Homo sapiens: one gene and its partners. The protein of the gene in region 7 interacts with the protein of the main gene of each other region in a pairwise test. Each region holds a gene or a part of one and is shown on either strand. Other genes may lie near its edges. The genes, in order: DES, CKMT1A, SPRED1, MYNN, EED, ZC2HC1C and JPH3.

Region 1 (3,786 bases), on a different chromosome or scaffold from region 7:
CCTGCATCCTTCTCATTTTTGGGCCCCTTTCTCTGCCCTTAGGTGTCAGACCTGACCCAGGCAGCCAACAAGAACAACGACGCCCTGCGCCAGGCCAAGCAGGAGATGATGGAATACCGACACCAGATCCAGTCCTACACCTGCGAGATTGACGCCCTGAAGGGCACTGTGAGTCCCTGCCCACCTGGCCAGGCCCTGCCCCTTCCTGTCTGCAGTTCACACCCTCACTTTGTGACCTTGGGCCCATCATAGATCCTCTCTGGGCCTTCATCTACTTAAATCTACAATAGGGGTAAAACCAGACAAGTGGATTCCAGTTGGATGCTAAGGAATCAGGGGTTCCTGGGCATCTACCTATGTGGGGACTGTGAGGCTGAATGCAATGTTCCTTTGTATCTATTTTATTCTGAGTGTTCACATATAGACTTAATTTGAGTTCAGGGTTCAACATGGCCTGGACCTGACCATCTGGAGTTGCCTGCCAGCCCCAAAGCTTTCTTTGGGCTGCTAGTGTCCTCTTCCCTTCCTTGACCTGGGTTCCCCCTCTCCTGCAGAACGATTCCCTGATGAGGCAGATGCGGGAATTGGAGGACCGATTTGCCAGTGAGGCCAGTGGCTACCAGGACAACATTGCGCGCCTGGAGGAGGAAATCCGGCACCTCAAGGATGAGATGGCCCGCCATCTGCGCGAGTACCAGGACCTGCTCAACGTGAAGATGGCCCTGGATGTGGAGATTGCCACCTACCGGAAGCTGCTGGAGGGAGAGGAGAGCCGGTGAGGGGCCAGGCAGGAGCCCGAGTGGGAGGTGCGGGGTGCTGGGTGGTCCATTTCTGTCCCCAGGAGGCTCGAGATTACTGATTACCTCAACAAGACCTGGAAACAATTTTTTTTTTTTTTGAGATGGAGTTTCGCTCTTGTCGCCCAGTCTGGAGTGCAATGGCACCATCTTGGCTCACTGCAACCTCCGCCTCCTGGGTTCAAGCAATTCTCCTGCCTCAGCTTCCCGAGCAGCTGGGATTACAGGCGCCTACCACCACGCCTGGCTAATTTTTGTATTTTTAGTAGAGACGGGGTTTCACTATGTTGGGCAGCTGGTCTCGAACTCCTGACCTCAGGTGATCTGCCTACCTCAGCCTCCCAAAGTACTGGGATTACAGGCGTGAGCCACCGCACCCGGCGTGGAAACAATTTTATACAAGAGGCCACTGCTCTATTAATTGCAGAGAATTAACCAAGGCCACCTGGGTAAAAAGCAATTTAATTAACAGCATTTATAAAAAGAGAAATATAAGTATTCCCTTATCCACCTTCAGAATTAAGAACCAGCAGCAAAAAAAACCATATTCAGCAACCAATAATAAAATATTACTGCCAGTCAAGGGAGAGATGAAAGCAGAATGGGGAGTGATGAGGAGGGAAACGGAGGGAGCAGATAGAGGCAAATAGAGAGAGGGAGGGAGAGAAGCCTTGCACAGGGATAGGCTAAGAGAAGGTAAAGAGATGCATACAGAAGGCATGAGTTTGCACACACATGCACACATGTCAGCATATGCACATGTTCGGAGGAAAAGACACAGACGTCATGCTCAGAGCAACCCACCTCTAGACACAGAAAACAACATACAACTGGAAAGGGACACCAGGGAACCTTGTGGGATAACAGAAATGTTCTATATCTTTTTTTTTTTTTTTTTTTGAGACAGAGTCTTGCTCTGTCACCCAGGCTGGAGTGCAGTGGTGTGATCTCAGCTCACTGCAACCTCTGCCTCCCAGGCTCAAGCGGTTCTCCTGTCTCAGCCTCCCTAGTAGCTGGGATTACAGGCGTGTGCCAACACACTCAGCTGATTTTTTGTATTTTTAGTAGAGATGAGGTTTCACCATGTTGGTCAGGCTGGACTCTAACTCCTGACCTCAAGTAATTCGCCTGCCTCAGCCTCCCAAAGTGCTGGGATTATAGGCATGAGCCACTGTGCCTGGCCTAGAAATGTTCTATATCTTGATTTGGACTGGTAGTTACACAGACGTGGACATTGATCAAAACTCATTGAATTGTACATTAAAGATCTGTGCATTTCACTGTATGTAAATTTAACCTCAATTTAAAACAGATCAGTTACTCCAAAAACTGGTACCCCTTGATACTCATAAAAATAATATCTGAAATTTTTAAAAAGGAGCAGACATGTTTAGATACAGGTACAAACATAAAGAGAAACTTCAGATTTTGTAAAATCACGTCTACATATGATGGCCTTTGAAGGTAGCTAAAGGCATGTTGCATTTTCCCAGCATTAGGCCTAAATAGTAAGCTCTCAGAACTGGCCTGGCTGGAGGGTGGGCATGAGCAATGGATATCACCCACAGCTGCTACTAGTACCAACTTCAGTGCCAGGAGCAAGAAGGAAATCCTGGTGCTCTGGAGGGCGCGGTGGGGTTGCACATCCTAGTGTCGTGCCAGCAGTTCACAGTTGAAATAATGATCCTTCCAGAAGAGACTATTCCTGGGACAGCTCTAGCTGGCCTTCGACCCCATTCCTTGAGCAGTATGGGTGGTGGGAGTGCTGGGGTCCGTGGGACTGGGACAGCTGAGGATGGTGTTTAGAAAGGACCAGGGTGAGCCTTGATGGGCGGTCTCAGGGAAAGATGGGAGGGTTCTTTTTTTTTTTTTTTTGAGACAGGGTCTTGTTCTGTCCCCCAGGCTGGAGTGCAGTGGTGCAATCTCCGCTCACTGCAAGCTCCACCTCCTGGGTTCGCACCATTCTCCTGCCTCACCCTCCTGAGTATCTGGAACTACAGGTGCCCGCCACCATGCCCGGCTAATTTTTTGTATTTTTAGTAGAGACGGGGTTTCACTGTGTTAGCCAGGATGGTCTCGATCTCCTGACCTGGTGATCCGCCCGCCTCGGCCTTTCAAAGTGCTGGGATTACAGCTGGGCCCGGCCGATGGGAGGGTTCTTAACTCTTAGGAGGTTTTGTCTCTTCCCTTTTAGGATCAATCTCCCCATCCAGACCTACTCTGCCCTCAACTTCCGAGGTGAGTGTCTGCTGGCAGGCGGAGGCTGGAGTTGCAGGGGCCAGGAGTCCAGCATGGGCACTGCCCAAGGCCAGCCAGGAGGGAGGATGGGACCCTGGGGCTAGGGACAGACCTGGAGTCTGGGGAAGAAAAAGGGGACCACTGCGGGTAGGTGGGGGAGTTTAGGTAGAGGTGGATGAGGCAACTTATGACAGAGAGAGCTTTTTATGTGATTATATTGTATTGTATTTACCATGTCCCCTGCACCTTCTTGGAGTATTGGGCCTCAGGAAGCAGCCTCTGTTCTGAATCCCAAACTCTGAAAGCAGGAGTGTCCTTGGGGACCTGGCTTCAGGAGCATCTCATACCACCTGCCCTCTAAGACACCCACAGCCCATTGTCTGTTTGGCACATTGCCAAGCCCCACCTTGGCTGCTTGTCGAACACCTCCAGTTTGCTGGAGCAAGATGTTGGATGCACGTTTGGAAAAAAATGCCAAATCTTAGCAAAGCCAAACAATGAAAAGAACGAGCTCTTAGGGCACTCTGCCATTTTGACATTAGTAATACGCAGATCGGGTGGCTTTCCAACCCCAGAGAGCAGAGAAACACACGATAATGATGCATTAGGAAAGCAAGTCGGAGTCCTTGGCAGCTTCTCCTTTCCTAGATCAAACCTTTTCTATCTTCGATGTACATTTCCATCAGGAAAAAAAACACGCTGCGCTCCAGCGAGTCACAACATTCATCACAGGCTGGTTGCTAGCTAAGGA
Region 2 (3,878 bases), on a different chromosome or scaffold from region 7:
ACTGGGGGCCTGAGATCTTCACTGAAATTGGCACCATAGCAGGTGGGGAGCTGGGCCACTGCTGGTGCAAGTTGGTTTGGTTTCTATACCATGGGTGGACTGGATGGAAGACTGCCCTGCAATTCTTCAGGTGTGGGCCTGAGAGGGTGTTTAAATAAGGGGCTAGAGACATATTGGGGAAGGTCTATGATAGGGCACTTTGGGAGTAGTTAGAGAAGGTCTATAGGTTTGAAGAGAGGGAAGGTCAGTCTAAGACAATGTTTGGATGCCACTTGCTTCAACAGCTGGGATCCCAGACCTGGCTCTTTCAGCACTGCTGCGGGGACAGATCCAGGGCGTTACTCCTCTTGCCATTTCTGTCATCCCTCCTCCTAAATTTGCTGTAAGTATTAATGGACTGGGGTGACCACAGGAGAGCCAGGGCCCAATGGGGACTACATGCATGCACTGATTCCTACCCCTGCCCTCAGGTGGTGTTTAGTCCCATCCAACTATCTAGTCTCGCCAGTGCTCAGGCTGTGGCTGTCACTCCTGAGCAAATGGCCTTTCTGAGTCCTGAGCAGCGACGAGCAGTTGCATGGGCCCAACATGAGGGAAAGGAGAGCCCAGAACAGCAAGGTGAGTTCCCAGCTGCACAGCTTGATCCTCCATCTCCTGACCCAGAATCAAACCCCTAATTTGGTGCTGTCTGGCTCTTAGAGTGCACCCAGGGAGATCCCTGGAGTGAAGGAGTCTACAGGCAGAGCGCTAATTTCCAAGTATCAATGCTCCTGGAGAGCTGAGTTGTGATATTACTCCCATTCCCTGTCTATTATAGGTCGAAGTACAGCCTGGGGCCTCCAGGACTGGTCACGACCTTCCTGGTCCCTGGTATTGACTATCAGCTTCCTTGGCCACCTGCTATGAGCCTGTCTCTACAGTAGAAGGAGATTGTGGGGAGAGAAATCTTAAGTCATAATGAATAAAGTGCAAACAGAAGTGCATCCTGATTATTTTCAGAAGCTGATGAGGAATATGGGTAAAATGTTAATGCTTTCCACCCACCTGAGAATCAGTGTTCCTGGGTTGCCATATCTGGAGTCTCTTTCCATCATAAATAATCCCACTGCCTCTTTTCATTTCCTGAAGGCTGCTCCCTCCTCACCCCACCATTAGAAGTAACACAGACAGCTGCAGCATAGCAAGGAGTCTTTACTAGGATGGAGGCAGGGGATGCGAGGGCAGGTCCAGAGCAAGTAGAATGGGCCATCATTAGAATGAGCAGAACTCCTTGGAATCTTGAGTCATCAGCTGGCGATGGGGAGTTAATGCTTGGTGTGGATGACAGGTGTGGGGATGCGGATATCCTGGCCTCTCTCCAGACGCCGTTCACAATCAATCAAATAGTTTACTCCATCGATGACCAGTTGCACCAGCTCCACCTGAAGGACACTAATCTTTGATCTCTGCTTCCTACAGTCTGAGTTTTTCTTTATCACTGACTGACTTGCCTGCTCATTTCCAATTGCCTCCCCACTCAACCTGAATTTCATTTCAGATTATGTTACATCCCGGAGGCTCACTCACTGCCATATTTCAGCCCCCACAGACCTATACCTCTCCTCATCCTAATCCCTTAGGATCTCACCTCTGATTTGCCTAGTCGGTCCAAATTAGAAATATCAAAGACACCGCCTGTGGCAGCAGTGTCCACTCCTCCAGTACCACGCTTTTGGAGTCTTAGGTTCTCCAGGATCTTTGGGAAGCGGCTATCCTAGAGAGGAGATAGGGATTGGGAGCAGGGTCAATAGAGGCAGAGACTAGTCCTACCTGAAAGAGCCCTGAACCTGCTCAGAGCTCTGTCTCCTGAACTTTTTTTTTTCCTTTTTTCTTTTTTTTTTTTTTTAGACAGGGTCTCTCTCTGTCACCCAGGCTGGAGTGATCACAGCTCACTGAAGCCTCGACTTCCCAGGCTTAAGTGATCCTCTCACCTCAGCCTCCACTACACCCAGCTAACTTTTGTATTTGTAGTAGAGATGGGGTTTCACCAGGTTGCCCAGGCTGGTCTTGAACTCCTGGGCTCAAATGATCTGCCTGCCTTGGCCTCCCAAGTGTTGGGATTAGAGGCATGAGCCACTGTGCCTGGCCTGTCCTCTGACCCTTTAGCCACAACATGTTTGGCTCCTCTCCAAAGGGTCCACTCCCTCCCCATCCACAACCCACCCTTCCTTACTCACACCCCTCTGTAACCCCACAACTCCTTTACTTTGCTTAGCAGGGGCAGTTTGATGTGCACTCCTGCCCGAAGTCCAGTGCCCAGGTTAGATGGACAGGTCAAGATGTATCCCAAACGCTCATTCCACATGAACTCCCAGCCACGTTCTTGGATAAGTCTCTCCACCTGAGTCCACAAAGTTTTTATTAATGAAAAATCAGGGATATTTCATTAACCCTGGACCCTCCCTTAGCTAGACCCACAAGAACACTAGAAATTTGTCTAGAATAGAAACTTGGCTGTGAATGAATGACATTGGTCTTTTTTTAAATGAAAAAGGTTTGTTATTGTTTTCATGCATGCATGATGCAAAATTATGATGTGCATAATAATGAGATTGTGAAAAAATATCTTATGTGGAAGAAGAAAACTCGAAGGCGTGGTGTATTAAGGATGATCTAGGGAAATGAACAGAGGTGGTAAACTGAACTGAGAGAGGACTGATTATTCAATGAGGTCTGCATGCATCGATTATCTTTGCTTTGCTAATGAGCCTAGAGCTTGGAAGGGTCCTTTCAGACAGAAGATGAAGGTGTAAGCTTTGCCAGGAAGAGGTGAGATAACGTTCTATTAGCTGTGAACGGAGCACCTGTGTGAATGCAGAGAAAGATGAAAACAGAGCAGGAAAGCCAGATTCATAGGAATAGGGGACAGGGGGAAGGCATTTTGCTTCCATTAACCATGTAGTCATGAAGATGACTATTAGAGTTCAAGAGACAAGGGATCTAGCAGAGTGATGATCACAAAGACCACTATCCAACATGAGTAAAGGGATCCTGTTTGTAGTTCAGAAGGAACCATGCCACCAGGGATATCTTATGTGCTGAACATGGGGGGAAACTCTTCCATCCAGAATAATATTGCAGCTAACACTTTAACACTTATTAAGCACTTACTGTGGACCAAGTACTTTACCTGTATTTCACTTAATCCCCACAACAACCTAAAATGTAGAAAATCTCATTATCCCAATTTTACAGATGAGGAAACTGAGGCATATAATTTAAAGGTACTTCCCTACCCACTCATAGTCAGAATATGTTATCTATTACTTGCCAAAAATAGTAGAAACTTCTCAGAATCTAAAAGAGGAGCTCTTTTTCTTTGCAAACCTAAAATAGAACTGTATGTTTGAGAACATACAGTAAGAATTGAATTGAGTTTATGGGGATTTCTAATGTAGACTTGAATACGGAGACCCAATCCATGTAGGATTGATGATTCAGTTCAACCTCTCATCTAGAGCCACATATTCTAGAACTCGAACCATTCTATCCTCCACCTTCCCCAGTCTCCCTCTGAACTCTCAACTTAAAGCCTAGACCCGATACTTTAACAAGAATGATAGAATCCAGAGTCAAGGCCTACCTTGTCTCAGAACTGGGTGGTTATATTAGAGTCATGAACACAGCAACCTCTCCCCGCCAACATCAATCTAAGCTCGAATGTTTTCCTTATCTGCACACCTCACCATCCCACTGCACACATCCCAGGCACTGACGTGCCATCTCAGTTATTCCTTCTTTGCATTACCTGCCTTCTTCACTTTCTAAGGTTCCTGACACTCTTTTCCTAATCTTAGTGTGACCACATGTCCTGGTTTTCCCAGTATGGTCCCAGCTGG
Region 3 (4,514 bases), on a different chromosome or scaffold from region 7:
ACTGTCATAGCTTGTTAACACTTCCTTTAATTATGAATGTTCAGGTTGAGATTAGTAAGAACGTCACATTTTCCTTCAAGCCCGCAAACACTCTGAATTTTAAGAATGCTTTGTCTACAGCAACATAATACCTTAGCGTGAAATCCATTATTAATGAACTGTTTTTCATTCTGAGTATCGCAAAAACACAATCTCACAGATATGTAATAATTTTGGTTCTGGATTCTGAGATGCAGCTATGACATAATACTTATCATAAATCTAAACATTAAAGAATAACAAAATTCATTACCTGAGTTAACTTCTTAAACTAATATACAGTTATCCCCTAGTGTTACATTACTGATTTGTATAAGTGACCTAGTAAAAAACTTACTTCTGTAAGTAAAGCATAAAGACTGGTATCTTGTTAGCATATTCCTTGTAGAACTAATCAAGTTGGTGTTTAAGCCCAATAGCCTTTGTTTACTTATTCATCCACAGATGGAGGCCATACTTTTTTTCTCTTTTTTAAAATGAGGGCTGTGCATGGTGGCTCATGCCAGTAATCCCAGCCCTTTGGGAGGCCAAGGCAAGAGGATCACTTGAGCCAAGGAATTTGAGACCAGCCTGGGCAGGACCCGATCACCACAAAAAATTTTAAAATTAGCCAGGTGTGGTGGCACACCTGTCGTCCTAGCTACTTAAGAGGCACAGGTGGGAGATCACTTGAACCCAGGAGTTCAAGGCTGCAGTGAGCTATGATCATACCACTGTACTGCCCTCCAGCCTGGACAACACTGCAAGACCCTGCCTCTTTAAAATAAATAAATACATAAAAAACAAAATTGAGTAGTACAAAATTTTGTGTCATCAAAGATACATGGCTATTAAGCCCAAAGTAAGTCTTAAAAGACTATTAATATACCAATTGTTTCCAAATTTTGTATCTTAATTGTTCAAAATGCATGCTTTTACCTAATCTTCCTACCACTTCTACTCTTAAGTCTTTTGTTTAAGTATGTCAAAAATAACAATATAATAAAATTAACAAAGTCTAAATCATACACCATCAACAAAGGAAGGGCACATATGATGCTTAGTCCAAATTCTTTAATTTATAAATCAGCAAACTGAGGCCTACAGAGCCCAGGATTAGAGAATAAATTAAAAATAGCTACAAAAGAAATCCATCTCCCAATTTCAAGTCCAGTGTTCTTTAGACTATACCATACTGCACAGAAGATGGTAAGAGTTAAATAAATGATGTACAAATGGCTTTTACATGAGCACTTAAATTCTATTTATAATATAGCATTTAAAAACATTCTAGTTACCGCAAAACAACCTAATAAGTTTTTAAATCAATTTTATTTTACCATAAAGCATTTAAAAAATAAGACTTCATTTTCTACCTTCAAAATTGGCAAAGAAAAATTCAGACAACTGTACAGACATTTCAAAGTTTAAGCACTCTCATATACTAAATACTTCTTTTCTAGAGGGCAATTTAACAGAAAGAATAAAATTAAATATTTTCCTCTCTTTTAACTCCATTCTTAGACTATCTCAAGGGAAAAGTAAGAGATCTGGATGGAGACAGAACTCAGGATGGTATGCAACATTGTTTAAAAATAACTAAAATATCCAACAATAGGAGACTGATTACAACTAATGTATATCATACACTGAACATAATGTAGCCACTAAAAATTATATTCTAGAATATTTAACGACTTAAGAAAATATTCACATTAAGCTACAATTGTACCCACTGTGCAATTCCATTCCACTGAGAAGAAACACATGTATATATATAAACTACATAATGCTTTCATAAAGCATTTATAACAGTGCTTGGCATACAGTAAAAATCTAATAAATGAATATGTTTCATCACCAACATCATAAGAAAGGTTTCCATGTAGACCAAAATTTTAGCAGCTGTTATTTAATGGCAGAATTGCAAATAAATTATTACTCACTTTAGAGATCATTTTGTACATTATCTGAAATAAACTACTACTCTTACATGGGGTGAAGCATTTTTTAAATTGGCATTTTTAATGTCGTTCCTGTTCCTACTGAAAGATGGAGAAGAAAAGCAGGCTTGTCTTTACCAATCATTTCCCCAAACTGGGTAAGACTAGTCAAGTTCAAGTTATACAACACCAGAGAAAAGGCTAAATTGTTACACTTTCCCCTTAGGCAGTTCTCAGTCACCAACAGCTGCAGTATAAAATCACGGAATCTGCTGCTGTTTACCCTTTCCTGATCAATTTCACTTCTTTATCCCTAGTCAGTTCCTCACCCTTGGCACTAATGTGGAACCATGGGGGAAAGGGAGAGCAATTTAAAGACTTAAAACTGATAAACAGCTGGAGATACATATTCCTAAATTTTGAGCTTCCTATGCCAAAAAAGACAGACACACAAATGTCTACCTTCTTGTGGATATAACACGGGTCTTCAGATACACCACATAACTCAGAGGCCAAGCACATCCAAACATCCCAACAGCACTTTAGGACAGTTTTTAAGCCTGATCTAAGTTATTTCTCAAACTTGCAGAAACAAAACATGTCAAAAATGAGGCCAATTTTTGTCTTTTCTTAAAAAAAAAGGTAAGCCTTCTTAAACGGGTAATAATTTACTTTTCCCATACTCTTTTTCGGCCTTTTTTTCTAATACAGCTAATGATCTCAAATGCATAAATTCAGAGAAAACAAAAAAATGAGGTAATGAGGCTCCATTAATTCAACCACATTTGTAGAGCATTTGCCATCAAGCACTGTGCTAGGCATACAAACAAAAGTAGGGAATTACAGAATAGCGGTCATAGAAATAAGTAAATAATCACAATATTATATGATTTTAAAACTAATATACATATGTACGAAGTACAGAGGCAACATAGAGGGACAGAGTGTTGAAAGAGGGGAAGAGAGAAGGTCTTTTGGGGAAAAATGACAAATTTACAAAAGTTTGTAAGGAGAGGAATTCTAGGTATGGTATCATAATGTGTTTAAAATATATAATTCAGGATCATAAAGTTTTAAGTGAGAAAGCAGAGGGAAATTAAGTTGAAGCAAGTATGCAGTCATTTAGCTGATTTTTACACAGGCCAACTGAATAATAAGCAAATTTTTATATTATGTATACACCACATCTATATAAACAAACATTAGATGGCTTAATATTACACAGCTTTCCAGTGCTTCCATTTATTTCTAGAATGTTTTCCAATTTTATATATATATATATGTGTGTGTGTGTACATACATATACATACGTAAAATGTATGGGGTGAACATATGTTTATTTACACTTATCAAAAATAACTCACCACTGGGTATATTTTTTATGAGGCACTAAATGATATAACCATAAAAATTTGCTTTCTATTTACGGAAAAACAGTTCAAACTCAGATTACAACATAGTACGTTTATCATACATGGTCTAATTCTAGTTAACCTAATTCCAAAATCTAATATAATCCCAACTTGCTATTAGAAAGCCTAATACTGACACAGGAAGTGTTTCTGGCTAACGTGAACCTAATAAGCCAAATGCTTATTATTTCAGCTACTTCACTTCTCCAAATGTTTTGGCCAAATTGACAAAAGGACATGCAGTGCTATATACACTCAATACCAAAGGACAAAGACTCTTAAGTATTATATAATATGCCTTTAAATGTTTAAAACTCTATTTAGAAGGCTAATTCAATAATGTAAAATATGGTACAGTTATATCTATCGGAAACATTTGACTGGAGTATTAAACAGTCTCTGTGCAAATTACCTACAAAACAAACATGTATGTGGCTATTTCCTCTACTATTTATAACACAAATTCTTTTGCTCTAGAGTATGTTTACTATTTTTGAAAAGTAAGATTTTTAAACATAAATGTGAAACAATCTAAGAAATGCTTTATTCTAATTTATTTCTTCCTTACTTGGTTTGGCATTAAAGCAAAGCCCTACACATAACAGATCCCCCACTAATTCTTGATTAAATATATTCTCACAGTCAGCCTAGGAGTTATCCATTTCTCTACATAAAACTTTAATTTCAAATAATAAGCATGTACTCGAGGATTTCAGAATGAGGCCCTACTGGATTTTACCACAATGGCTATCTAGAAAGGGTTAATGGTTTCCCAGGAAACTGGTGATTTTCACTTTTCTTGAAGGTTGAAATCAGGTGAAAAAGAAACTAAAGAATGTTAAAAATAGTCCCTACTGTAATTAAATCCCTATGAGCAATGGCTTTAAAAAAGAGAAAAGGGAAAAAAATGTAAGGCCCAAATAAAATCCATGTTACAGGGCAGTTTTAAACTGTGCTAAGGCCTTAATGGCTTCTGCCATGATACGTATCTTTCTTCATAATGACTATAAATAATAAATTTCCATTTCAAAACGGTTCACCTATTAAAGATGAGACATAAATTACTATATTAAAAGCTACATTCCAAATAAGTTCACTCTGTGGTTTATCTAATGCACAAGCAAACAATGCTGGCTCTAGT
Region 4 (4,424 bases), on a different chromosome or scaffold from region 7:
AATAAAACATAAACTGAATCAAATTTTGAAACTGTCTTTGACAAGATAAAAACACCAAATATCTACTTAAAATTCATTTTGAAAATACAATCTCAGATAACTCAAACCAAAAGTGCTGACCATTGGTTTTCTCCAGAATACTCAGTTCTAAATGAACAAAAATTTATATGCACTTTTCTAGATTTTGAGAAACATTTTTGTTTCATTAGAAAAGTTATTTCTAACAATATATTAATAGAGAAATAGCACAATTCTTATTCAGCGCCTAAATTTTTACGAGCGAAAATATGAAATTTTATTTTTATGCATAGTTTATGTATTGATCCATGGGGCTTACAAATAGCAACACACTCTTGGGCTGATACTATCGTGGATTTTGCTTAAATTATGAGGGCAGGAAAATTTTAAAATCCCACAGGTCACAACTGAATCACATTAACTGGCTGATTTAGTAAATGAAGGGCAATTCTAAAATGCAAAATAAAAATGGAATTAAGGCAGCTTTAAAAGAAAATAAAACTCATCCACCCAAAATAGTGCTACATAATTCATTACTTAAAAAGCTCTCTGTGGAGTATAGACATAAAGCCAAAAATAAAAACAAACATTGCAGTTGTGATGCAGCATCAGGTGCTTTTACTTCAGTGAATGAAAAATAATGGTCACAACTCAAATGAATGGGAATTTAATATGAATATATGCACCTTACCAGAGATGTTTGCTACCAATGATATCTTAGCAATTCCATATTCCTTACAAAGTCAGTATAATTGTTGTAAAAAAATCAACTGTGGTTCTGAATACCCATTCACAGTTGACCTCAACAATGTATCTGATGTAGGAGACTGAGTATCCGTGACAGGCAGAAGCATGTGATGGTCCTCAGTCCCAAGTGGAAGAGCTAATGGTAAAGTCATATCAGAAGGCTTCACATCCATAGTTTCTGATAAAGGACTTTTTTGTATGGAATCCTGTTCACTCAAAGTATGATCCTCTGCACTGGAGTCTAGAGTTTTATCTGCACCTAGAATGGAAGGAAAAAAAAATCTACATTATCTTTAAAACAAAACTAAACCCCTGAGGTAGACTAATGTACTTACCATTCCCAGAAATTACATTCCAACCACCATACCTTTACTCAAGCGGTTTCTCTTTTGTACATATGCCCTCCTCACTATCTATGTAAATTCAATCTGGGCCTCAAGGTTAAGTTCAAGCACCAACTCCATTTAAAAAAATGGACTTGATTAAGAATGAAACAGGGTGAGCTGTTATATCGGCTTAATCACACATTTGTCAATTTTCATATACTGCCTTGTGGCATCTATCTCTCTTATTGCCATTTAACATTCTACTCAGGTATGCCTTGAATCCTCAACCAGACTGTAAATTCTTTGAGAGTAAATGTCGTTATACTTCTTTAACTCCCTCAAAATATTAAACAGTGATAAGAAATACTCTTTTCATTCACTGAATGTTTTTAATAAGTTGTTCATATTATTCTGTGAGTTCAGAACAGTATGTATGGCACTTTCATATATTTTCAGAGGTGAGAAATTCTGCTCTACTCAAGGGAGCAATCAGCACACTGACTAAAGATGTACTTTTGCCTTCAAATTTTCCAATGGCTTTAACATGCTTCCGTTACTCTAAAGTGTTGACATGATTTTGGTTTCACCGTCCTTGTCACGCAGACAAAACTGCTTTCGTAAAATTGTAATTATCTGTATTCTTCCCAAACTACTCTTCACTTCAACTAGCTAAGGTTTCCTTCTTGTCCCACTGACTCTCTACAGTGTTCTCTGCCCGGAATGAATCCTCTCTTCCCATCTCCATCTTTGAACTCTTCTCCATCCTTCAAGTTAAAATTAAGTTTTTTTTAGTACTTACCTCAGAAAAACATAGTATCTTCTTTAGCACTTTTGTGTCGATTATGCCCTACATTTTCCCTATTTATTTAGTTTATTTAATTATTTATTTAGGTTTCTGGTCTCGCACACCAGGTTGTAAGTGCTTTGAGTACCAGAACTATGCCTTGTTTAACTTCATATTCCCTGAAAGTACACTTTACAGAAATTTAACAAGTGGTTAAATTAATGACTTACTGCAGTTTTTAGATGTTTCTAACTTAATACTTACGATGTTTAAGTATTTACACACCAGAAGGGCCTAGTGTCATGTCGAATAATGACGGAATAAAATGGTAAGCACAGGGAAACTTTTTCAAGAATTCACTTTAACCAATAGACTCAAAACTTGTTGTTTGGCTTTCCATTTTTATATATTATAACAATGTAGGGCTACCTGTTTCCCTATTTCCTCTTAAACATTTCTGGACTAGTGTTCATGATAACACCACCCCCCCCCCCTTTTTTTTCATAATAACCATAGTAAACCCTGAGTTATCCAGACTCCAGTATGGGAAACAGTGACACATAGCTTGCTTATATGTTCCTTCATGCTTGGGACTGTTATTAAGTCAGGTTTTCAAAGGAGGAAATGTTTCAAGTTTTTTTTTTTTTTTTTTAAATAAGAGATTCAATATGAAAAATCCAGAGTGAATGTTTCTGCAAAAAAGCTACTTTCCTCACATGTATATACCTAGTTTTTGAAATAGACATCTAATTTAAACTGCTTAAATGTAAATCTCATCTCAGCATTTTAAGGAATAGCACTAATATGAGCACCAAATTAAAACAAACAAACAAGCAAACAAAACACAAGCATTTACCAGAATGGACTTTTGTTTTGTGCTTCTTTAAATTTTTAATATCTGTGTAAGAATTTCCACATAATTCGCAGATAAATGGTCTTTCTCCTGAAAAACAAATTAGAAGTTTAAATTTCAATATTTTAAAAGCTGCTAGCTAAGACAAAAATATCAATGTTTATGAACACAAGGCAAAAATTATTATAGTGTTTAAATTTGGTTTCAAATTGTCACTTTAATCACCTGGTTATAATATAGTGAAATGAAAGATTCTATACAACCTAGACACTCCTTTATACAAAAAATCTGTATCTCAAGAAAACTTGAGCATTTTCATAAACAGAAATGTATCTGCAAACTAAAACAAACAAAAGCCTACTCTTGTATTTCTATGAAACATTTAGTGAGTGTCAGTTATATGCCAGACACTGGCTAAGAGATACAGCTGGGAGAAAATAAGTGTAATAATCATGGTTTCTGCTCTCAGGTACCTGGCAAATTAGAAAATCCTTAAAAATACTGACAGCATGCTACAATATTACACTTCTTTGGAAATAACTGTTCAGTGCTTTATGGTGTAAACTAAAGCGCGTCAGAATATAAAGTCACCAAAAACTTACTAAATCTCTATTAAGTACTCACATTATTCTAGGTAGGAATTATGAGAAGGAATTTTTAAAAAGAGAATGTCAGAACAGTACTCTTTCAAAGTGGCATTTTCCTTTGTTTTAAAATTTTTTACATTCAATATTTTCTTTATACAATTTACAAACTACTTTTTACAATAAGCATGTCAAAATTAAAATTTGTTCCTAAAAATTGCATACTAAACACTGTTTAGTAAGAAAATCTGATGTTATCTTGGTATTACCTATTCCTTTTCATTTCTTGGTATATCTGTGCAATTTAATCCAAATCATTTAAAAACTATTGATTATCTGGCATATTTCTTGGAAAACCAACACAATTCTTTAACAAATTTAATTCATACTCCAAACAACTAAAAAAAAAACAAAATAAGCAAATAAGTTGATATTTATACATTAAGATATTGCTATAGGTACAGTATGACTAAATACCATATAGTCCATAATGGCTTAAAAGTCAAGGTTTACATAAAAAGAAATTAAGAGAGAACAAAAAATAATACGTTCTCCCTAAACACAGACCTGTATGGGACCGAAAGTGTTTGTTGAGCTCTCCTGAGGAAATAAAACTTTTCCCACAAATACCACATATGTATGGTTTTTCACCTAGATGGAAAATAAAAGATAGCGAAGTGGTGTACTATACCAATATAATATTTATCAATTACAAATAATCTAAAGTAAGCTTTTCTGGAATATTATTTAAATTAAAATCTCTCTATATTGTACTTTAGAGGTATTTTCAGTGATCCAAGTAAATGAATATTAGTAATTATTGTATACTGTTCATAAGTTTTCATATATTAAAACTTTATTCCTCAAAATGTCCCTTCTAATAGAGATGATTTGGGCAAGGAATTTGATTTTTATATGATTAAGAACATGTCAATTCATAAACCCACATTTCTATTCTTGCTATCTACTATATTAATAAAGGAGAATAAAAGTATGTAGGGAAGTCTTTTAAAAAATGTACCCTAAAAAAGCAATTTGTTTCCAAACTGCTATTTTGCATCTGAATTACCTTATTTGAAAATCCCAGAATATCTGTGTAGGAAAGGTCCTAA
Region 5 (4,514 bases), on a different chromosome or scaffold from region 7:
AAGCATGTTTGAGAGAGAATATTAAGGATGTAGCTAAGTGACTAATTGCTAAGGAGATTAATAGGGAAGAGAAGGCAGGTTCTATTCACCAAGACAATGGGATAATGACCACAAAGGCATTTCAGAGATCTTCAAGACATAGCTAAGACCTTGAGGGCAAGGTTTCCAGAGTAGCACCCATGGGACCTCTACATTCACTGTCCAGGGCCACTTCAGCACTTTGCTCCCCCTATTCCAAGGCAGTGCTCTTTGGTCACCCCATAGCTTGAAGGGGCTCAAGTATGGCTCAGGCCATAGCTTCTGAAGGTACAAGCAGCAAATCTTGGCAGTGTCCATGTGGTGTTAAGTCTGCAGATGCAGAGAATGCAGGAACTGTGGAGGCACGGCTTCCTCTCTAGATTTCAAAAGACATCACAAAGAGCCTGGGGCTCCAGGCAGAAACTTTTCAGAAGGGCAGAGCCACACAGCAGTTCCTACTACAGCAACACCTGGTGGAGCCATGGGGAAAAAGCCATCCCCCAAATCCCAGAACTGCTGAGCTACCAGGGCACACCACCAGCCTGCAAGAGCTGCAGGCACCCGACTCCAACTCATAAGATGCTATGTGGGCTGCACGTGGCAAACCCATAAAGATGGGGCTGCCCAAGGCCTCTGGGGCCCAAACTCCACACCCAGCATGCCCAGAAGGCAAAACATGGAGCCAAGGAAGATTATTCTGGTGCCTTGGATTTAATCTTGTTTGTTCTGTTGAGTTTTGGATTTACTTGGGACCAGTTACCCTTATTCTTGCCTATCTCTCCTTTTTGGAAGGGACTGTCTATCCTATGCTTATCCTACCACTGTATTTTGAAAATAGATAAGATGCCTGATTTCCCAGACCCACAGATGGAGAATTTACCTCAGCAGGAATCCTGCCTTGAGTCTCACCCATATCTGATTGAGGATTTGAATTTTGGGGGCTAGAGGCAGAATGCTACAGCTTAAATGAACCCCCGAAAAAGCAGGTTGGGAAACTTAATCCCAATGCAGCAGTGTTGGGAGATGAGACCTAATGAGAAGCGTTAGGTCATGAGAGTACCACTCTTATGAATGAATTAATTCCAATTATATATTAAAAAAAAAAAAGGCTTCAAGTTCAATTTCTTGTTCTTACTTTCTAATGCCAGGTTAAAGTGGACTAAGACAGTAAGTTCAGAAATATTCATGTGGTCTGAAAAATATTTTAAGCATATTTATCTCAAATAACTTTCTTTAAATAACCTAATTTGATGGAAATATACTTTTGAAATAAAATACAGATTTGACATAAGCAATTTTATCCCACAGAACAAGATACTAGCTTTTCCCTTCACCATACTCACATTAAAAAATTGAAAGGGGACTGAGATTTATGATTTTTACAGTAAGCTGAAAACATAACTACATATATCATGCACAATTTTATAGAATGACAGTCCCTCTTCAAAAATTATGCAGCTATAATTTGAGCAATGTTATATTAAACATTAATAAAGAATGTACAGCAGTAGCTCACACCTGTAATCCCAGCACTTTGGGAGGCCAAGGTGTGAGGATCTTTTGAGGCCAGGAGTTTGAGACCAGGTTGGACAACATAATGAAACCGTATCTCTACAAAAAATTTTTAAAAATTAGCCAGGCATGGTGGTGTGCACATGTAGTCCCAGCTACTCAGAAGGATGAGGTGGGAACATTGCTTGAGGCCAGGAGCTCAAGCTACAGTGAGCTGTGATCACATCACTCTACTATAGCCTGGTTGACAGAGTGAGATCCTGTCTCTAAAACAGTATTTAAAAAAAAGAAAGAATGTAAAGCAAAGACACGTCATGTAAGCTTGAAATATAACAATGTTCATTCTGTCTGTGAATATAAATGCATCACATAAACACCCCAGAGGTAGTAATACATGTGAAAATTAACAGTGCTGTAAAAATGATTCCTTGATTTCAATTTTGTACAAGCTTTTGTATGGACATGTTATTTCTGTTGGGGATACATATGTACACCCCCACCCACACAACCCTAGGATATACATACATATGTAAACATCTAGGATTAGTGACTCTGTAACATTTTGAGGAACTGCCAGATTGTTTTTCAAAGTAGTTACATTTTACATTCCCACCAGCAGTGTCTGAGAGGGCTCTGATTTCTTCTTGTGCCAGTCAATACTTGTTAGTATCTAACGTTTTTATTACAGCCACCCTAAGTAGGTGTGAAGTGGTATTTCATTATGGTTTTGATTTGTATTTCCTTAATGATTAATATGTTAAACATCTTTTCATGTGCTCAGTGGCCATCTGTGTATGCTCTGTGAAGAAATGTCATTCAGAACTTTTGGCCATTTTTAAATTGGGCTGTCTTTTTATTGTTGAGCTATAAAAATTCTTGATACACGTCCCTTATTAGCTGGGAATCATGGCTCATGCCTGTAATCCCAGCAGTTTAGGAGGCCAAGGTAGGAGGACTGCTTGAGGCCAGGAGTTTGAGGACCAGTCTAGGTAACACAGGGAGACCTCATCTCTACAAAAACATTTTTTACAAAATTAGCCAGGTATGGCGGCACGTGCCTGTAGTCCTAACTACTTGGTAGGTTGAGGCTACAGTGAGCCATGATCACACCACTGCACTCAACCTGGGTGACTGGGCAAGACCCTGTCTCCAAAAACAAAAAATAAAAATCAAAGTCCTTTATCAGAATGATTTATAAATATTTTTTCTCCTTTTGAGTAGGCTTTTTTACTTTCTTGATAGTATCACTTGGAGCAAAATTCTTATTCATGCTCAAACTTCTGATTTTTAAAAATGCTCTTACTGACACAATAGAGGAAGACCAGGGTTAAAAGTTGTGATGTTGGGCTGTGCGCAGTGGCTCACGCCTATAATCCCAGCACTTTGGGAGGCCGATGCGGGTGGACCACCTGAGGTCAGGAGTTTGAGACCAGCCTGGCCAACATGGAGAAACCTCATCTCTACTAAAAATAAAAAAAATTAGCCAGGCATGGTGGAGGGCGCCTGTAATCCCAGCTACTCGGGAGGGTCAGGCAGGAGAATCACCTGAACCCAGGAGGCAGAGGTTGCAGTGAGCCGAGATAGAGCCATTGCACTCCAGCCTGGGCGCCAAAGCAAGACTCTGTCTCAAAAATAAATAAATAAATAAATAAATAGAGGCAGGACGCAGTGGCTCACACCTGTAATCTCAGCACTTTAGGAGGCTGAGACAGGCGGATCAACTGAGGTCAGGAGTTCAAGACCAGCCTGACCCATGTGGAGAAACCGTATCTCTACTAAAAATACAAAAATTAGCCGGGCATGGTGGTACATGCCTGTAATCCCAGCTACTCGAGAGGCTGAGGCAGGAGAATCTCTTAAACCCGGGAGGCAGAGGTTGCAGTCAGCCGAGATTGCACCATTGCGCTCCAGCCTCCGCAACAAGAGCGAAACTTTGTCTCAAAAAAAAAAAAAAAAACCAAAAAACAAAGAAAAGAGAAAAAAAAAGTTGTAATATTTAGAACAAGTGAGGCATTACGGTCTATACAGTTGTTCAGAAATATCTGAGCCCCAATTAGTGTTATCAAGAGACAAGAAAAAGTAATCAACTCTTCCTAGAGGTAGTGATTTCCAAAATGCAATGCTTTCCCTTTATGGGAATATTTCAAATAACTTATCCTGAAAAACGTAGCATTTTTAAGAAATTCTATAGGAAATCCTTTATAAAACAAAAGCTTTTTTAAAAAATAAAAAAGCAATATGAATTTTCATATGTAGTATTTATTATTACATGATTGGACAAAATGATTTGGATATGCTAACATAGCCTGGGATTTTCCTACTAAAATGTACTGTTATAACCTTTTTTTTAATTTGGCTTTATTTCCTTAGAACACTATCTGTCCATACACTGGGGCCTACTGGAGGGTAGAGGGTGGGAGGAGTAAGAAGATCAGGAAAAATAACTAACAGATACTAGACTTAAAATAAAACAGGACCTGTCAACCTAAGTAACAGAGAGGCTCTCTAAAATAAAAGATGTTTATATGGAAATAATGCACTGCAATGAGAATGTACATGCCAAAGTAAACTATGTGTGTTCTCCGAGACGTAAAGGAAAGACAGAGGTTTTTAAAGAAAAAAATGAGAAGGATTACATAATTGTTTTGAAATAAGATTGGCCACAAAATCAGTAACAAGGGTGATGCCAGTCTCAGGATGGAGAGGCACTTACTGCCAGTATTTTCTGTGTAAGGCTGTGATGGCCTTTGTGCAAGGTTGTGGTTGTGTTTTTTTGTGAGTTTTTATTATCAGACATACAAGCATGTGGACTCTCTTCTCATGGTTTTTCCTATTTGTCAGGGTTTTCTTGACATTAGTGACTCCATCTTAATTCTGACAAATTGCACAGACTCAAGAAACATTTGCTTCACTTACCTTTACTTACTGACAGGAGAAGATTTGGATCTCTTGGATGGAATTTCAGCTCATTGATAGCATTTCCA
Region 6 (4,514 bases), on a different chromosome or scaffold from region 7:
AAGAGTTGCAGAAGGAACAGAGAAAGCACGAGGAGAAAATTATTGTTGTTTTGTTTTGTTTTGTTTTTGTTGTTGTTGTTATTTGAGATGGAGTCTTGCTTTGTCACCCAGGCTGGAGTGCAGTGGCGCAATCTTGGTTGACTGCAACGTCAGCCTCCTAGATTCAAGCGATTCTCCTATCTCAGCCTCCCAAGTAGCTGAGACTACAGGCGTGCGCCACCACGCCCGGCTAATTTTTGTATTTTTAGTAGAGATGGGGTTTCACCATATTGGTCAGGCTGGTCTTGAACACATGAGATCAGGTGATCCACCTGCCTCAGCCTCCCAAAGTACTGGGATTATAGGCGTGAGCCACAGCACCTGGTGAGGAGAAAATTATTAAGGAAATAATACAATTAACATTCCTAGAATTAAAGGTCACACATTTTGAGATTGAAATGGCTTACCAAGTATCTAGCACAATTATTGTAAAGTTTCAGAATTTCAAAATAAATAGAGAATCCCGTAGCCTTTTAAAAAAAAAGGTTTCTTGTAATGGAACAGGAATCAAAATGGCATTAGATTTCACAACAATACACTGGATGCTAAAAGCTAGTGGGAAATACTTTAAAAGTTCTAACAGATAATCATTTTCCTCCTAGAATTCTGTACCTAGCCAAATCATCAAATGGGAGCCTGTCATATAGATAGTGTCATTCATTCCAAGACAATATACCTGCTATGCACCCTTCTTAGTAAGCTTCAGCAAAGGAAGGAGTAATGCAAGAAAAAGGAAGACACAGGATGCTGGAAACAGAGGACCCAACAAAGAAGAGAAGCAAAGAGAAGTTCCAAGAGAATGAGTTTGCACCAGGCCTAGAGAATACCCAGTCCAGGTTGGAGCAGAAGGGATCAGAGTGGCTGAAGGGAGGTTTTCAGAATTAAAAAATCAAACTGATAGATTATGAGAGGTGTTTGAGCATTACAAAAACGTTAACAGATGTCTGATATCAGATGGATCGTTGCGGGGGAGAAAAAGACAGGTATGTAGAAAATGAAGGAAATGAAAACATACGTCCATTATTAATTTTAGGTACATGTGGGCAGAGACAGAATTTGTTCACTCATTAATGAACAAAATTTACTTGATCATTACAATGTGAAAGCTAACTACTTTTAACCAAAAATTGTGATTCGACTACAGTGGAAGGATAAGAGAAAGAGAACAGTAGGAGAGAGGGAATATGAAAGAGAACTTCACTCCCAGCTTCCATAAGAAGTTACCAGGTAGAACAGGCACCGTGGCTCACGCCTGTAATCCCAGCACTCTGGGAGGCCGAGGTGGGCAGATGACTTGAGGTTAGGAGTTCAGGACCAACTTGGCCAACTTGGTGAAACCCTGTCTTAACTAAAAATACAAAAATTAGCCGGGCGTGGTGGCACTCGCCTGTAAGCCCAGCTACTCAGGAGGCTGAGGCACAATAATTGCTTGAACACGGGAGGTGAAGGTTGCAGTAAGCCAAGATCAAGCCACTGCACTCCAGCCTGGGCGACAGAGACTCCGTCTCAAAAAAAACAAAACAAAACAAAAAAAAACAGGTAATGTAGAAAATTGATAAATCAAGAAAATAAGCATATTATTTGGAAATATGGAAAGGCAGACCAGAAGAACCATCTAACAGAACTGAAGGCTGCCTCCGGGGGCTGAATTAGGGGTTCCATTATAGGTCATTCAGTACTACATGTTTTTTAAATGCATGCAAACACTATTAAATTTTTTAAAGAGAAAAAAGACAACTAGCTCTTGGTGATCTGGCATTGTTAATGATGAATAATAGGAAGAGATACTATCAAAGGAAAAGAAAGGATCCTTCCAGAAAGTCTCTTGCCAAAACAGACAAGAAGGCAAGAGAGTATTAGCGATGGTATCCAGGAACCTTTAAAAGAATTCGAAGACCAGGCACGGTGGCTCATGCATGTAATCCCAACATTTTGGGAGGCTGAGGCGTGTGGATCACAAGGTCAGGAGTTCAAGACCAGCCTGGGCAAGATGGTGAAACCCCGTCTCTACTAAACATACAAAAATTAGCTGGGTGTGGTGGCGGGCACCTGTAATCCCAGCTACTCAGGAGACTGAGGCAGAGAATTGCTTGAACCCGGTAGGTGGAGGCTGCAGTGAGCCAAGATCGCTGCAGTGAGCCGAGATCGCGTCACTGCACTCCAGCCTGGGCAACAGGGCGAGACTCGGTCTCAAAAAAAGAATTTGATCAGGGGAAAGTTCCTCTCAAAGAATTTGATCAGGGGAAAGTTCCTCAAGTATATGAGATCCTTTAGTAATTTACTTCTTATACTCTAATTCCTATAATTTTATTCCTCATTGTACTGAAATTCTATTCAGTTAACACTTATTAAGCACAAAGCACAAAATATGTTCCCTGTCCTCAAAAATGCTTACAGTCCAGGAGAGAGACAGGGTGTACGTCTGCTGGGAGTTACGTGAAGATTAAAGGATACCAGGAAAATCACCTGTTCTTGAGTACTCTAGAGGAATGACAGGAAGGTACAACCACTCAGCTTCCAAAGGCACAGCACTGTGGAATAAGATTTGAGACATTACCAGGGTGGTGCAGGTGCATCTTAGTCTAGGTCCCTTCTGTCTTGGTGTCCTCAATGTCACACATTCCCACAAACTAGTTGCCATAAAGCTGGAGCATCTGATCTCAGGAACCTAATTATTTTGCTTCACCGTAACTGTATTTACGAATTTAAGAAACACAAGATTCTTTTAGGCTCTGGCCAAAAATAAATCGCTACAGTGGGACATAGAGTGAATTCCCAGTGGATTACTGGGTTGAACTGAAAGAAAACAGGAAAAAACAGTAAGTGGTGATCATATTATTATCTGCAAGAGCAAAATGCTGATTTCTTCTTTGGAAACTAGATTTCAGGGAGATGATCTCTGAACATGGATGGGACTTCCTTGTGATTTCTCCAAACTACTAAAAGAAAGAACTCTAATTGTAAACAATTTCTTCTAACAACCATCATATAAATGTGAGTTTTTAAAGGCTCCAGCAAATACACAGAAACTGTAAAGTGCCAATGGACAAGAGGTGCCAGCACAGCGGAGGGAGGGTTGGGAAGAAATGAAAACAGAATGACACTCTCTTATTCTTCTGGAATATTAGAACTAGATGGGGCCTCTGAGATCATATGATCTACGCTTTCCCAAACTTCAATCATCTGCACTTTCACTTCATCCTTACAACTAATTAATATTTTTCTGTAAATTCATGATCCCTGGAAATCAGGGGCTTAATATATTGTTATATTTTCCTAATATAACACTAAACGACGAATCAATTTTTCTAATACAACACTAAACACTAAAACTACTAAAATAAAGTTTGTCAGCATGCCACACCTTGAGAAATAACCATTTTATAAACCAAGTGGCACAACCTTGACATGTCATTCATTTATGAGACAATCTTCTCCAGATATGTCCAAATGTGCCTATGAAGTTCACCTAAATTTATCATGTAAGTGTCACGAAACCCTTACTTTTTCCAACCTGGTTTTTCTAAAGTGAGAAATAATTGGCAAGGGCATGGTTTGTAAGATAACCAGAAAGAAAGTCCTTTTTACCTTCAAGGTGTTTACATTCTAAATGGGCAGAAAAAGAATTCCAAACTTAATTGTGTTTCATCTATTTACTAAGAAGCTATGTTAACACTGAGCTAACCTTAAAAGAGTGAATAGTTAAAGGAATGGTCACAGATCCTAGTCTTGGGAAGTGGCAGAATACATTGCAAAGAGTGAGGAGTTCTCTCCAGGTGACAAAAGGCTGCATTTTTTTCTTTAGATTTTTTGTGTCTTTTAAATTTTCTACAGTAAACTTTTATTACTTTTATAATCCAAAGGACACAAATTCTATGTCTAGATTTTTTAGTCATTCCAACCAAGATTTATATGCCGACTCTGCCACTTAAAGCTGTTTGTGACCTCAAGCAAGTTACTTAGCCTGTCCAAGTCTTGATTTTTGAACTGATACAATGAGAGATAATGTGGAGATCACATGAAAAGCTCCCGTCACAATGCTGGCATACAGTAGTAATCAAGAAATGTTAATTCTAGACGTCAATTCTTCCTACATGACACATGAATTTTCCCTAAAGAAAACTGATGATGACAAAACAGACCCCTACAATGATCACCACACCAAGTCACATCCATAAGGCTCTTGTTACCTTGGCTGAAGCTGGCCCCTTCCAGTTCAAGTACTGCTCTAGTTCTGTGCCCTTAGCCCGGGCCCTGGAGGAGTCAAACACTTTCCTCTTGGAACCCCGCATCCTGCTGCAGATGTTGGAGTGTCTCTCCAGCCTGAACGAGAGGAATTTGCGCCCACAGTGGCTGCACTCACCCAGCTGTGGCTCTTCAATGGAGCCGCTGGAACCTGAGGAGTCTGGTGCCATGGACAGGCTGGAATTTCTGGCGGATCCCTGCAAAGCACCGACTGGTGTTTCTGAAGGCGG
Region 7 (4,514 bases):
GGACACGGCCGGGCTGCCGGCCACCGCCGGAGAGGCGTCGGGATGCAGCGCCGTGCCGTTGGTGTGCTCGCTGCGCAGGGAGTTGATGGACGTCCTCAGGGGTGAGCGGATGACCGCGGCCATGCCATACGGGACGCTCTGCCGGACGCCGTAGCCCTGGCGCATGCCACCGACCCACTGGCCCTGGTAGGTCCCTGGGGAGAAAATGAGAGAGGGGTGAGTGCCCAGCGACAGAGGAGGGGGCACAGCCTGGCCACGGACAGGGTTGAAGCAGCCACAGTCCTGTCTGAGCTTCCTGTTGTTTTGTGTTTTTTGAGACAGGTTCTCGCTGTGTTGCCCAGGCTGGAGTGCAGTGAGACCATCACAGCTCACGACAGCCAGGAACCCCTGGGCTCAGGCGATCCTCCTGCCTCAGCCTCCTGCGCAGCTGGGACTACAGGCGTGCACCACCATGCTCCACTACTTTGTAAATTATTTGTAGAGATGGCAGTCTCATTATGTTGGCCAGGCTGGTTTCTAACTCATGGGCTCAAGTGATCCTGCCTCAGCCTCCAGAAGTGCTGTGATTACAGTCATGAGCCACACCACTCCTGGTGTGCTATCTTGATGAAACCTGGTGAGGTTTGCGTGGAGGCAGACAGACCATGGTACCTTCCTACAACTTCTATCACCAGTGGCTGTTTTTGAAGACACCTCCATCCTGCTTCTCATGGCTAGATCTTGTTCTCTCTTGGAAATCGGGGAGGGAGAAGGGAGGCATCAGAGTCTGTGGTGCAGAGTGAGGACCACAGAACCCAGAGTGAATACGGAGCCCCTGCCAAGGGCACAAGGAAACGCGTCCTGGGTTAGGAGGCTAATGAGTGGCAGCTACAGGGACACAGGTGTGGGCTACACACTAAGCCCTGAATGGGCTGCTCTGGGAGACAGTGAGCTCCCCATTGCTGGAGGTATCCAGGAAGACCACACAGTGGACACACCATGGAAGAGATTCAAGGGCATAGGGAAGGGACAGTGGCCCATGACCTTCAGACATAAAATCAGCAGACCTGATATCCCCAGAAGAAGGGAGGGTGGGGACTGCAGCAGCTGCCTGTGCACCTGGGTTCTCAGCAGCACTGTTTCCATGGCTGGAAAGGGAAAGGCAACCCACAAGTCCATCACCTGGTAAATGGACAGACGCCATGCGGTCCGTCCATACGATGGAACATCATTCAGCCTTGAAAAGGTAGAACATTCTCACACAGGCTGCAATGTGGATGAACGCTGAAGACATTACACAGAGTGAACTGAGCTGGGCACAAAAGGCCACATATCGGATGATTCCATGTACACGGGGTCCTTAGAGTAGTCACGCTCAGAGATGCAGAAAGCGCGGTGGGTGCAGGGGCTGGGGAGGGTTGTGGGGTCAGTGTTGAATAGGGACAGAGTTTTGCAGTAGGATGATGGGAAAGCCTTGGAGGTAAACAGTGATGACAGCTACCTAACACCGTGAAGGTAATTAATACCACTGAATTGTATACTTAAAAGTAGCTAACGTGGTACATTCTGTATTTCTCTTACCACAATAAAATAAAAAGGAAACCCGGTCAGCAGACCTGGGCCCATGTCTTGCTCTGTGAGCTGTGACTCAGGGAAGTTTCTGGGCCCCGCTGGCCCTCAGTGTCCTCGTCTGTAGAGTGGAACCAGGACTCCTCATGCCAAAGGTCACCGTGAGGACGGCTGGGCCTCAGCACGACGCCCAACGCGGCAAACCTCAAGCCTCATTTGTCATTTGAGCTTCTCCCTGCAGCCGGGCACTAACGGCGTGGATGTGCCACCCTGGAAAGGGCTTTTGCGGGGAGAACAGAGTCCGTCCACCACTCTTCCAACTCACGGTGGCACAGGCTGCAGACCAGAGGCCTGGAGGCCGAGACTTACTGATACGTAGGTTTTATTCGTCCCACCGCTGTTTTCATAAAACATTGGAATTACCTGCTAACAACTCAAAACCAAGAGATTTGACATAAAAATTCAGCTCTCTTCTGTCTCCTGAAAAATGAGGACCTGGCCACCCCGACCTCTCTTTTCAGAGGACAAAATGGACAGGAGCTGGCAGCAGCTGCTCCTGTTCTGCCAGTCACTTTTTAAACGGAGAGGCTGCAGCGGGTGGCAGGTGCCGCCATCTCTCGGAGCGAAGCAGCCCTCCACTCCCCACTGCCCCCCCCCTTTCCCTAGCCAGGCCCCCTCCACTCACACGCCCCACACCAGAGGGTGGGATCCAAACTAAGTGTGGAATTCAAAGTCCTGTAGCCTCAAGTGACCTGTCCGTCCCCAGGGTATCCCCACACCCCGCCACCTTCACCCGCCACCCCCCAAAGGGTCCTGATCCTTCCAGGCTTTTCTGTCCAAGGCTCTGTTCACGCTCTCTCCTCTCTCACACTCCCACCCTCCAATCGAATCCCATGGGCTCCAAGCCAGCCCCACCCCTCCTCCACAGCACCTCCAAGCACCCCAGGGCCCGGGCCCAGAGCCCCCATGCCCGGCACCCGCGGCATCCAGACTCAGGACAGTGGCTGGGGTCTTAGATGTTCCAGAATGTATCTTCCAGCTCAACCACATCACGAGCCCCCAGAGGGACTTGTGTTGCAGGCCCCTCACGCCCCATGTGGCATATGGCCCAGCCAGGGCAGAGAAGGGGCGTGCAAAGATCACCAATCAGGCTGCAGCCCCGGACAGAGCCCCTGAGGCTGCCTCACTCCAAGAGATGGTGGCACCTGCCACACGCTGCAGCCTCTCCGTTGAAAAAGGAATCGGCAACGCAGCCTCTGAGGGCAGCTTCTCCAGGAGCAGAGCCTGAGCTGGGGATCCTGTGAACGTGACTTATTTGGGGCTGGAGAAGGGGGGTACCAGGAAGAAGGACGTGGCAGCAGAGGACGGGGCCGAATGAGGTGGTCTCAGCGAGAGGTCAGCTTCAGCCTCGTCCCACTTTCAGGCAAGGGGATAGGATGTTTGGGATCCCACACTGGTCGGTCATTCTGTACCCCCAAAGCTGCTTGGGGAGGCAGCTAACCTGGAGGCAAGTCCACTGCCATCAACGTCGGAAACAACCTCACTGCCATCAACATCAGAAGCAACCTCACTGCCATCAACATCAAAAGCAACCTCCGACTCCAGTGATGGGGCTCCTGCCCTCCCACCCACTAGGCTGTGGCACCTTCTCCTACAGGATGCCAAGAGCCGGGCAAGCAGGGATGTATGTGGACCGGACCCCAGGGACCCCACAACACCACTGCACACCTTTCCAGAGTGTCAGCCTCAGCCTCTTGCCCAGAGGTCCCAGCACTGGGGGCAGTTGTGATGGGCACGGGGAGGAGGCAGAGGGGGCAGCTGACTCGGAACCACCCGGCACCCCAATGCGAACCACACTGGGGGGAAACCCTGTGGCTTGCTCCACACCCGAACGCCCTTCCAGGCTGGGGTTGTGAGGAGGAAACTGGAACTAGGCTCGGTGGGTCTCAGGGGGTGGCCCTTTACCAAGGCCAGACCCGCCCACACAGTGGCCTTCCCATGGCCAGTCCAAGCTGGACACAGGCTGCCATCACAGGGACCCTCACCCCAAGACTGCACCCTCAGCGACTGCCCCTTCCGTGCCAGGGCTGTGGACAGGGTTGTCACATCAAACACAGGACGCCTGGTAACATCTGAGTTTCAGATGAACAACACATCGTTCTTTAGGGGACACGCTGCATGGGACATACTTATATTTAAAAAGCGTTTGTTGGCTGGGTGGGGTGGCTCATGCTTGTAATCCCAGCACTTTGGGAGGCCGAGGCGAGCAGATCACCTGAAGTCAGGAGTTAGAGACCACGCTGGCCAACATAGTGAAATCCTGTCTCTACTAAAAATACAAAAAAACTAGCTAGGCATGGTGATGGGTGCCTGTAATCCCAGGTACTCAAGAGGCTGAGGCAGGAGGATCACTTGAACCTGGGAGGTGGAGGTTACAGTGAGCACAGATCATGCCACTGCACTCCAGCCTGGGCGACAGAGCAAGACTCTGTCTCTAAACAAATACATAAATAAAAATAAAAAGCATTTGTCGATTACCTGGCATGCACAGGTAACCGGACAACCCTTTTTTTTTTGAGATGGAGTCTTGCTCTGTCGCCAGGCTAGAGTGCAGTAGCGCGATCTCAGCTCACTGTAACCTTTGCCTCCCAGGTTCAATCGATTCTCCTGCCTCAGCCTCCTGAGTAGCTGGGACTACAGGCATGCACCACCACACCCAGCTAATTTTTTTCTGTTTTTAGTAGAGACAGGGTTTCACCATGTTGGCCAGGATGGTCTCAATCTCTGGACCTCATGATCCGCCCACCTCAACCTCCCAAAGTGCTTGTTAAATTGGGCCCCCCCTCAGCTGGAACTCCAGGAAGGTGGGCTGCCCCCGCAAAGTGGAGGATGACCCTGGAAAGAGGAGAGGCTCACCCACTCCCTGAGATCCCTCCTCCATCAAGGGATGCTCCAGCTTACAGATA

What was found.
Region 1: the proteins of JPH3 (region 7) and DES interact in binary tests that used the Homo sapiens proteins (3 or more experiments, as listed by UniProt).
Region 2: the proteins of JPH3 (region 7) and CKMT1A interact in binary tests that used the Homo sapiens proteins (3 or more experiments, as listed by UniProt).
Region 3: the proteins of JPH3 (region 7) and SPRED1 interact in binary tests that used the Homo sapiens proteins (3 or more experiments, as listed by UniProt).
Region 4: the proteins of JPH3 (region 7) and MYNN interact in binary tests that used the Homo sapiens proteins (3 or more experiments, as listed by UniProt).
Region 5: the proteins of JPH3 (region 7) and EED interact in binary tests that used the Homo sapiens proteins (3 or more experiments, as listed by UniProt).
Region 6: the proteins of JPH3 (region 7) and ZC2HC1C interact in binary tests that used the Homo sapiens proteins (3 or more experiments, as listed by UniProt).

Annotation. Positions count from the first base shown.
Region 1 is NC_000002.12:219,420,786-219,424,571, forward strand, and holds part of DES (desmin), read left to right. Parts: intron 1-42; coding exon 43-168; intron 169-554; coding exon 555-775; intron 776-2,991; coding exon 2,992-3,035; intron 3,036-3,786. UniProt on the Homo sapiens protein: Muscle-specific type III intermediate filament essential for proper muscular structure and function.
Region 2 is NC_000015.10:43,696,516-43,700,393, reverse strand, and holds the end of CKMT1A (creatine kinase U-type, mitochondrial isoform 1 precursor), read right to left. Parts: intron 2,381-3,878; coding exon 2,246-2,380; intron 1,754-2,245; coding exon 1,628-1,753; intron 1,422-1,627; coding exon 1,305-1,421; 3' UTR 1,172-1,304; downstream 1-1,171. UniProt on the Homo sapiens protein: Reversibly catalyzes the transfer of phosphate between ATP and various phosphogens (e.g. creatine phosphate).
Region 3 is NC_000015.10:38,255,552-38,260,065, reverse strand, and holds part of SPRED1 (sprouty-related, EVH1 domain-containing protein 1), read right to left. Parts: intron 1-4,514. UniProt on the Homo sapiens protein: Tyrosine kinase substrate that inhibits growth-factor-mediated activation of MAP kinase. Negatively regulates hematopoiesis of bone marrow.
Region 4 is NC_000003.12:169,783,016-169,787,439, reverse strand, and holds part of MYNN (myoneurin), read right to left. Parts: intron 3,964-4,424; coding exon 3,880-3,963; intron 2,819-3,879; coding exon 2,732-2,818; intron 1,025-2,731; coding exon 762-1,024; 3' UTR 1-761.
Region 5 is NC_000011.10:86,257,529-86,262,042, reverse strand, and holds part of EED (polycomb protein EED), read right to left. Parts: coding exon 4,447-4,514; intron 1-4,446. UniProt on the Homo sapiens protein: Polycomb group (PcG) protein. Component of the PRC2/EED-EZH2 complex, which methylates 'Lys-9' and 'Lys-27' of histone H3, leading to transcriptional repression of the affected target gene.
Region 6 is NC_000014.9:75,071,627-75,076,140, reverse strand, and holds part of ZC2HC1C (zinc finger C2HC domain-containing protein 1C), read right to left. Parts: coding exon 4,230-4,514; intron 1-4,229.
Region 7 is NC_000016.10:87,639,938-87,644,451, reverse strand, and holds part of JPH3 (junctophilin-3), read right to left. Parts: intron 195-4,514; coding exon 1-194. UniProt on the Homo sapiens protein: Junctophilins contribute to the formation of junctional membrane complexes (JMCs) which link the plasma membrane with the endoplasmic or sarcoplasmic reticulum in excitable cells.